Regions from separate parts of the Homo sapiens genome. Here region 2 is linked to region 1. Evidence: fine-mapped expression QTL. A gene starts in region 1. The other region holds a variant in brackets. All regions are shown on one strand. Distances are between the middles of the regions.

Region 1 (5,381 bases):
TCTCCTGTTTCCTGGACTTTCTTTTCAAACCAAAACCCTGGACTTTCTTTTCAAACCAAAACCCTTATTATTCTTAACCCTCACCGGAGTTTTTTTTGTTTTTTTTTTTGGAGACGGAGTCTAGCTCTGTCGCCCAGGCTGGAGTGCAGTGGCGCAATCTCGGCTCACTGCAACCTCCACCTCCCGGGTTCACGCCATTCTCCTGCCTCAGCCTCCCGAGTCGCTGGGACTACAGGCGCCCGCCACCACGCCCGGCTAATTTTTTTTCTATTTTTAGTAGAGATGGGGATTCACCGTGTTAGCCAGGATGGTCTAGATCTCCTGACCTGATCCGCCCACCTCGCCTCCCAAAGTGCTGGGATTACAGGCATGAGCCACCGCACCCGGCCCTCACCCGCATTATTACAGTTGTGTGTTTTATTTCTACATCTCACCTTTTCCTCACTCTTTTTCCTTTCCATTATTCTCTTCTCATCTTCTATATACTTATTTTCCTTCCATTTTAATTTTCCATCACAAATTTCAAAACACTAAACAAAGTTAAAGCAATTAAGAGTAGATAAGCTGGATACACATGAGGGCTTATTAGCTTTAGCCACAAACATAATTACTTTCAATTTGGAGAGTCTCTAAAACCACTACATGGCAGCATTCATTAGCGCCTGTTTCCTTGCAAAACAGCCCAAGCTATGTTACTGGGTACCAATACTGGAAGTACTGTTTCTAAGTATATAAGGCATTTTATTAAGGATTTGGACAAATTTAGTCCAAACCTTAATCAGTATACATTAAGGTACAGTGGAAAGAGCATGATTTAGAGTCCAGGCTCTGGTGACTACCAGCTGAGTTCATTCACTCAACATCTGAGCATCTAATACATACCAGGCACTGGGAAAGATACAAAGACTAACGTAACAATCATATAAATGGTTACAATATATATTGATAAGTTCTACAAGAAAGGCATGTAAAAAGTTTATAGAAGCACAAAATATTTTAATGAAAGTTAGATTAGAGGGCCTTTCAACTCCAAAATTCTATTACTCTAAATCCTTTTAAGCCGTTTAATTAGAAGAGAATACCCACAGATTATAATTTTCTATCAAACAATGCTGCCTAAGCACTTCAATTTTGAAATACAAGTAACAGCTAACATTAAGCACCTAGTATGTGCCAAGGAATACGAGCTTTCCATACACTGTCTCACTTAACAGTCACTCACAAAAATCCCAAGCAGGAAGTAATAATGTCACCATTTTAGAGATAAGGAAACAAAAGCTCAAGAAAGACTAAAATAATTTACCAAAGTCTCACACATACTGAGGAAAAGGGAGATGTGAATCCAGATCTTCCGACTGCAAAGCCTATTCTCTTTCCACTAAACTACTTGTCTCATTTTCTTCCACTTACATAAAAACAAAATTTCCGGAGATCACCTACTTAAGAGCACCCAAGAAAAACCCTAAGATAGTCAAGTACAAAGTGATGACTTTTTTAAACTACAGTACCTAAACCTTTTTAACCTAGAGTACCTGCCGTATACACCCTCCAAAACAAAATGCAAAAAAGGATTACAAAACAAATACAACCAATATACAATAAATATGTGACCATAAACACATTATGAAAACTAGTTAATAAAAACGAATAAGATTTTGTGATTTCTTCCAACTGTTATATTTACCCTTTCTTGGTTCCAAGACAAATAAATCCCCAAGGAAGGAATGGCCCAGCATATTTTAATGTATAACATGCTGGGACGCCCTGTAATTATTTAGAAGTACATATTACAGAATATGGAGTACAAAATAAAATATAAAATGCTGTCAAACTTTTTTAAAAGACAGCAACATAAGTCCACTAAGTCTCAAATGTCTAATCATTAACAAAATTTAAAGCTATTTGAATGTCATTTACATGTTTGTTTTTCTCCGAAAACTTCCTTAAATTCACCTTTTTTTGGTCAATCCTTTTCTCCAGGTTATCAATTTTTAATTGTAAATCTGAACCAGCAAGCACAACATCCCTGAAAAAATAATCCTTTACAACAAATGAGGGGAAAAAGCAGAAAATTTTTTGTGCAAAATTCCAGAGCTCGTTGGAAAAAGTACTTGAACATAAATCGCTGGATCCTGGTGACAAGTTTTTCATCGGGACTCCTTTAAACTACTACAATTTCTGGTCCTGGCCCCAAACTTCGCCTAAGGACAAATTTTAAGATTAAGAAAAATTAGCTTCAGGTAGCCTTCACTCTATAGCTCAATCCATGATTTTGTAATACTGAAGTATCCCTCATTAACAATTACCTCAAACAACAAAAGATCTATTTCAAACGTTCTCAAGGATTCCAGTCTGTGATATATACATTCCCCCTTCCTTTAAGAGAACGGGGCCCAAGCTAAGAATCACACAAAAACAATTCACTAACGTTCTGTTTTCACAATTCCTCTGAGAAATTTGGAAATACTGTTAGGTATCACAACCATTTATGAGTCCTCAGTCTCCCACAGAGGTGATATTTTCTTTGGTTTCATACCTGCACTACGCAGCACAGAACACCAGCCCGGAAAAGCCGCTGGATCCTAACATTCCCTCCTTCATCCCGACACCCCCTCCCCAACCCCAAACACAAACACGCTCTTCTCTCCACGCTTCTTGCACAATGTCGCTGGTCAGAGGGCTCGGCTCAAACTCCACCGCCTCTTCGGGCCCGACGGGAACGCTTCCTCCCTGCTCGGCATTCCCTCACCACCGCTTCCTCGGCTGTCAGGCCCAGCGCAGCCTCGGCAGGCCGGGCGCTGCTGGGGAAGGGGCCGCCTCGGCCTCGCCAAAGGGCTCTTCACGATCCTCGGCCCAGTGCAACGGCGTCAGGCAGCTCTTCTCGAGGCAGGGTCCTTCACGAGTACCCGGACGGGCCCTCCCGGGTAGCGAAGTGAATAAACGACGGAGCAGGGCAGCACAGCACAGCTTCCCTTCCCATCCCGGGGGTCCCCCAACCTCCTCCCGCCCCCGCCGTCTGCCCGCCGCCATTTTGTGCGGAGCCGCTGCGACACAGATACAATAGTCGGCCCGGATCTCACAGGAAGGGCTCAGGACCCCCACGATACCGGCCTCCGCCTTCCAACCCCCTACTCCCCACAGGGCAGCGGTCCTACCTATGCCTACCCGACTAACAGCTGGATCCCATCCGCGCCCCACACAGTTTAGCACTCAGCCTCCAGTCTCGACGCCGAAAACGCTACCGCCTCCAAAGAGCTGCACGCATGCGCGCCTCCCAGCTCCTGCGAGCCCTCGTAGGCTCCCGGCGCCTGCGTACCGCTGGCACCGCGCTCGCCCGAAGCCCGAGAAGAGCCGGGCGGAGCGGGCTCCCGGAAGGGGCGCTCCCGCGTGGTGGCGGCGAAGGCGTGCGGCAAAAAAAAAAAAAAACTCCAGCGCCGTCTTCACTCTTTTGCTGGTTCTGTGCCTGTCCTCTCCAAACCGCTCATCCTTTTAAGACCTATATTGTCTCACCTCCTTCATGAAGTCTTCCCTGATCATTTGTGCCTTCAATAATAACATTATATGGCCAGGCGCGGTGGTTCACGCCTGTAATCCCAGCACTTTGGGAGACCGAGGTGGGTGGATCATCTGAGGTCAGGAGTTCGAGACCAGCCCGGCCAACAGGGTGAAACCCCGTTACTAAAAACACAAAAAATAGCCGGTGGCGCGCGCCTGTAGTCCCAGCTACTAGGGGGTGCTGAGGCAGGTGAATTGCTTGAACCCGGGAGGCGGAGGTTGCAGTGAGGGAAGATTGCACCACTGCACTCCAGCCTGGGCAACAGAGTGAGACTCCATCTCAAATAATAATAACAACATTATATTATAACAGGTTATATTCGCGCCTAGCACGTTAATATAATGCTTTGTATGGTCAAGATTTTGCCTGCTTTTATCCTGTCACCTTGCACCTTTTGATCCCTATGGCAATGATGTGTGTCATAGCTACTCAAAACTGTAAAGTAGAATTCAACCAAAGCTATTCAGCTAAAACTTTAACACTCTGAAAATCCTTTTGTCATTTCACAATAAAAAGCCCTATCTGTGTGGTAGATATTTGTAATCTCCATTTTACCCATGGAAAACCTTGGGATGACAGACGTTAAAGAACTGTGTTATGCAATGTTTTATCTTCTCGAGGTGGCTGTACTACACCAATATGAAAACCCAGTCATTGTTCAAAATCTGGTAAAGCTACAAGCCCTGCCGTATGCATACCACACAAATCACACCACCCACCCTGAGTCTCACACATCGGTTTTACCTAGCACTCAAGCAAATGCATTTCTTTTATTCACATTAAAACAAGCATTTGAAAGACTAAAAAGAAAAGTCGTTTTAAAAAGATATCTTATCGGATTTTCATTTCAAACCAAAAATCCTGCTAGGGACAACAAATCAAAAACAACAAAGAAAAAGCCAACAAGCTCCCCCTAAACACCAAATAACCCATGTTAACATTTGATAAGTTTCCTTCCATACATTTCTTTATATTCATACAAACACATTATTTGCATGTAACAGGAAATGTTTTCTTTTTTCACACATTAGCTATTTGCTTTTCTGATTACTGACATTTCTCCAAGTAAACCATATAATCCTTTTTTAAATAATTGTATAATATTCATAGTATAGCTGCCTCAGCAATTATTCAGCCTGTTGTTGAACACTGAAGTTGTTTCCAGTCTTTTTGCTACTGCAAACACTGCTGTATACAAAGACTTACCAAATTATGCTTTAATTTCTAAAGGCTAGAATCATCATAGTGGGAATGCTAGATTAAATGTATATGTGTGTACATACATTTAATTTTAATAGGTGTTGTAGAAAAACTTCCCAAAAAGTTTCTACAAAGTGTCACTTCCACTAAATATGTAAGAAAATAGGCAGGGCAAGGTGGCTCATGCCTGTAATCCCAGCACTTTGGGAGGCTGAGGCAGGTGAATCACAAGGTTAGGAGTTCAAGACCAGCCTGACCAACATGGTGAAACCCAATCTCTACTAAAAATATAAAAATTAGCTGGCTGTGGTGGTGCACGCCTGTAATCCCAGCTACTCGGGAGGCTGAGGCAGGAGAATCACTTGAACCCAGGAGGCAGAGGTTGCAGTGAGCCGAGATCACGCCACTGCACTCCAGCCTGGGTGACAGAGTCAGACTCTGTCTCAAAAAAAAAAAAAAAAAAAAAGAAAATAACCATTTCCCTACAAACTCACTTCTTTCTCAAACCTGAAATACTTTAAATATCATTGGACTTACCTGTTCTTTAAAGTTTGAAATAATTCACCTTTGAAATATCTTGTTTGGTGCTTTTTCTGAGAGTTGTTCTTCTCTAATTTTCTCTTGA
Region 2 (5,381 bases), 37 kb before region 1:
AAGACTTTTATCTAAGATCTCTAACTATGAAACTACTACAAGAAAACACTGGAGGAACTCTCTCTCCAGGACATCAGTCTGGGCAAATATTTCTTCAGTAATACCCCACAAACACAGGCAAATGCTGTACAAAAATGAACAAATGGGACCACTTCAAGTTAAAAAGCTTCTGCAGAGCAAAGGAAACAACAGACAACCCACAAAATGAGAGAAAATAATTGCAAACTATCCATCTGACAAGGGATTAATAACCAGAATATATAAGGAACTCAAGCCACTTTACAGGAAAAAAATCTGACAAGGGATTAATAACCAGAATATATAAGGAACTCAAGCCACTTTACAGGAAAAAAAAAAACTAATACTCTGATAAAAAAAAAATGGGCAAAAGATCTGAAGAAACATTTCTCAAAAGACAACACATAAATGGCAAAAAGGCACACGAAAAGGTACTCAACATCACTGATCATCACAGAAATGCAAATCAAAACTACAATGAGATACCATCTTACCCCGGTTAAAATGGCTTTTATCCAAAAGACAGGCAAAAACAAATGCTGGCCAGGATGTGGAGAAAAGGGAACCCTCAGTATATTGTTGGTGGGAACGTAAATTAGTACGATCACTATGGAGAACATTTTGAAGGGTCCTAAGAAACTAAAAATAGGATCAACCATACAATCCAGCAATCCCACTGCTGGGTATATATACCCAAAAGAAAAGAAATCAGTATATTGAAGAGGTATCTGTACTCCCATGTTTCTTGCAGCACTGTTCACATTAGCTAAGATCTGGAAGCAAACTAAGTGTCCATCAACACATGAATAGATAAAGAAAATGTGGTACATAACACAATGGAGTACTCTTCAGCCATAAAAATGAATGAGATTCAGTTATTTAAAATAACATGGATGAAACTGGAAGTCATTATATTAAGTGAAATAAGCCAGGCACAGAAAGACAAAGATCACATGTTCCCACTTATTTGTGGTATCTAAAAAATCCCACAATTTGTGGGCTCTAAAACAACTGAACTCATGGAGACAGAAAGTCGAAGGATGGTTATGAGGCTGGGAAGGGTAACAGGGGGTAGAGGAGGGGATAATTAATGGGTACCAAAAAAAAACAGAATGAGTAAGACCCAGTATTAGCTAGCGCAACAGAGTGACTATAGTAAAAAATAATTTAATGTTACATTTTTAAACAATTATAAGAGTATAACTGGATTATTTGATACACAAAGAATAAATGTTGGAGGGGACAGATATCCCATTTTCCATAATGTGATTATTACACACTGCATGCCTGCATCTAAACATCTCATGTACCTCATAAATATATATACCTACTATGTACCCACAAAAATTAAAAATACAATAATTTTTTTTAAGATATAAAAATATTTTCTCAACACCCTATTTTAAAAAACACACACATACACAAAGAAAACCTTACAGGTGAGATATACATATAGCTTTTTACTTAACAGAAAGCTCATCCTTAAAGGGTAATTTAAAGTAATTCTATAGATATTATCTACGATCATATGAACTGAAGCACAGAAATGATCTAGAAAAATTAAAGTTACAAAACTTGATACTTCTAAGGAAGTAAAGGCCCAAAGAATGTACACTATACGATTTTGTTTATGTAAAGTTGAAAACAGGCAAAACTCAACTATGGCATTAGAAATCAAGTTAGTGTTTACTTGTGAGAAGAAGGGAGGGTGTAAGAATTGGGAAGAAGCAAGCAAGGGACTTCCAGATACTGTCAAATGTTCTCTTTTGTGACCTAGGTACCAGATTCACAGATGTTTGCTATTTTTGTGTTATATATGGCAAGTATTTTCTCCTAGTCGTCGTTATTTAATACTGTATATAGCACCATACATGTATGAGGAAGTTTTAATTTCAACATACTTGAATTAATGCACATATAATGTGTTGAGCTAACATTTATGTTTCTATGCCTATTTCTATATGTGTGCCATACTTAAACAAAAAAGTTAAACTAAAACAACAGTGATAAAACATTTAAGACCTAAATCCAGATTACCTGTGCTTTTTTCTTTCCTGGAACACATATTTTCACACTTTTTCCTTTTATCGTAAGAGGTGTTGTTTCAATGTACTTCATAATTGCAGTAATTGCCTCTTTAAATTCCATTTCTAGGTAAGCCTAAAATGAAATTTATTCCATCTTTAGTCACAAATCTATCTTTAAAAGTTCCTGCATTTTAAAATGGGCTTAATCCTTTCTTTTGTAACATCAAACTATGAAACTACCTCAAGTCATGGTTGCTTTTGCCTGTTTTTATTTTGGTCAAGTATAATTTGATTAAGGATGTTTCACACATTAAATGGACATTTAACCTTACATAATTTCTATACCACTACCAAGATAAAAAAAAATCCAGGCAGGCTCATGGAAGAAGAGGAAATGAGAAGGCAGGGCTCACTGAACAACAGGAGGGAAGGGAAGATATGGTCCAGCTTGTGGTAGGTCTGACATTTTAAAGGCTTCTTGCAACAAAGACAACACTATCACTATGTTCCCTGTCCTGACTCACAAACTTTTTAAAAAAATTAAGACAGAGGTCTTGCTATGTTGCCCAGGCTGGTCTTGAACTCCTGGCCTCAAGCGATCCTCCAGCCTTGGCCTCCCAAAGTACTGGGATTACAGACTTCAGCCACCACACCCAGCCTTAACTCACAAAACTTTTTTTTTTTTTTTTTTT[TG/G]AGACGGAGCCTTACTCTGTTGCCCAGGCTAGAGTGCAGCGGCGCCATCTCTAGTCACTGCAACCTCTGCCTCCCGGGTTCAAGAGATTCTCCTGCCTCAACCTCCCACGTAGGTGGGATTACAGATGTCTGGCTAATTTTTGTATTCTTAGTAGACACGGGGTTTCACCATGTTGGTCGGGCTGGTCTCAAACTCCTGATCTCAGGCGATCCACCTGCCTCAGCCTCCCAAAGTGCTGCGATTACAGGCACAAGCCAACACGCCCAGCCTTAACTAACTATTTTATGTTGTGCTTATGTGAAGAACTGTTCACAGTTCTTAACTTTATCATGTGAGTTATAGGAATATAACCCACAGAAAATACTTAACCATACAAAGGAAATAATTTGTTTTAGTATTATCTAACTGGTGTTCTAAAGTAATGACTGGCAAACTATGGCATACTACCTATTTTTGTAAATAGTTTTTTGGACACAGCCATGCTTGCGCATTTACATATTACTTATAGCTGTTTTTGTACTAGAATGCCAGAGCACAGTAGTTGAGATCCTACAGATGGCTTATAAAACCAAAAATATTTAGCTGGCCCTTTACAGAAAAAGTGGGCAAACACTTATTTTAAAGGATATAAAACATTATTTTGCGGCCTTGCTTATTCACATCCAGACATTTATATAACTCTCAAAGAACAATTATATATGCAGTACAAGCAGCTAAGGAACACAACAGCAATTTATAGAATCATTAAAGCAATCACTTTGTATGAATTTTTGCCACAGACTAAATGACTCACCTCTTTTCTATATGGAACAATTAGGACATCATTCACTTTCCCAAATGGTTGAAATAATTTTCTCACATCTTCTTCAGTACAACCATCCTCTGGTAATTCAGTTATAAGAAGAACCGAACCATAATGCAATGACTGTTCTTTCCGAAGCTATTTTTGGAGTGAAAGAAAATTTAAAATAAACCAAATTAAGCTACAATGTACAGTAATAATTTCCTATATAATTTCTTCTACCACTAATATTAGTACACTAAAGGGTCTTTTCCATATTTTTTACCCATTTTTCTTTTTCCTTCACCACCTCCTTTACGCATTTTTAAATCACGATTTTAACACTTTAATAAGATTTTAAATGCAAAAGTGGTAAGAAATGTTATTTATATTTTTTAACCCAGAAATGGTTTACAGGTGCTCTTTTCTGTTGATAGCATCTTATAGCAAATAAGATCTATGGAATGTTCCAAGGCCATTAGAGAGAATTTTTCTATGAAACTACATGGCCCACCAACAAGTAAAGCTGAAATTACAGCTTTGCTTACCCCCTCTGTTCTAATAATTGGAAATGATCTCTAGACAGGTATAATATTTTTAAAAATTCATATATAATGCATACCATTTGAATACACTGTAGTATCAACTTTACCGCTTACGTTAAAAATTACAGCCAGGCATGGTGGCTCATGCCTGTATCCCACTGCTTTGGGAGGCCAAGGCAGAAAGATCGCTTGAGGCCAGGAGTTTAAGACCAGGATGGGCAACATACTAAGACTCTATATTTTTAAAAAAAAAAAAAGGCCAGGCCTGGTGGCTCACGCCTGTAATCCCAGCACTTTGGGAGACCAAGGTGGATAGATCACAAGGTCAGGTGTTCGAGACCAGCCTGACCAACACGGTGAAACCCCGTCTCTGCTAAAAATAAAAAAAATTAGCCAGGCGTGGTGGCACACGCCTATAATCCCAGCTGCTCAGGAGGCTAAGGCAGGAGGCAGGAGAATCACTTGAACCTGGGAGGCGGAGGTTGTGTGAGCCAAGATCACGCCACTGCACTCCAGCCTGGGTGACAGAGCGAGACTCTGATTCAAAAAAAAAAAAAAAAAAAATTAAAACACCCAGCTGGGTGTGTTGGCGCATACCTGTAGTCTTCTACCTGGGAGCCTGAGGCAGGAGGATACTTGAGCTCAGGAACTTGAGGCTGCAGTGAGCTATGACTGTGCCACTACACTCCAGCCTGGGTGAGAAAGCGAGACCCCCATTTCTCTTATTTTTTACTAAATAAGAAAACTTAAAAAAAAAAAAGTTCCACTGCCACCACCTAGAAGTCTTGAAACAAAATGAAAAGAACTTCATATTATGAGACTAACTCAGCCTCTTCAAAATTTTCCCTATACTCAAAAATTTCTTCCCAATGCTCTTCAAAATTCTGTTAATTACTGGTTGATTATCAGAAGTTTATCCTTCTAAATGTAAGTTCTTTGGGGCAGGGAACAGCACTTACTGAAAGTCTTTCATGTATTTAAATACTGTTGAGAGCAATGCATTCCATACCTAAATACTTGAAGACTTATTAATATTAAAATATACAAAATATTTGATATTGGGCCTATTAGGATTTTCTCTGAAGATAGTCTCTTGATGTTTTAATATATTAATAGTGATTTAATAAACACATACAATAAAACAATACCTTAGTATCGTAACCAGTAGGTTACAGTCAAAATAACACTAATAAATCAGTACCAAAGTATAAATTTTACACTGTACAACAGAGTATTTGACTTCTGAACTGTACCACAAAAAGTATAGAACAGATGAATAATGATCAATTCTCAGGAGAGGCTCACTCTTATACCTT

Evidence for each region.
Region 2: its variant is fine-mapped to the expression of ZNF638 in whole blood (INTERVAL, PIP above 0.99).

What each region holds. Positions count from the first base shown.
Region 1 is chr2:71,329,650-71,335,030 of GRCh38, reverse strand. It overlaps ZNF638 (zinc finger protein 638), which reads right to left and starts at 3,249. Exons shown (of 28, transcript NM_014497.5): 1 at 3,156-3,249. RefSeq lists enhancers at 2,283-2,968, 2,969-3,656 and a silencer at 3,240-3,449.
Region 2 is chr2:71,366,680-71,372,060 of GRCh38, reverse strand. It overlaps ZNF638 (zinc finger protein 638), which reads right to left. Exons shown (of 28, transcript NM_014497.5): 7 at 3,533-3,679; 8 at 2,056-2,178. Among named protein-coding and RNA genes, the nearest start is that of ZNF638, 38 kb to the right of the region's middle. The variant TG/G (reference allele first, on the strand shown) is at 2,738.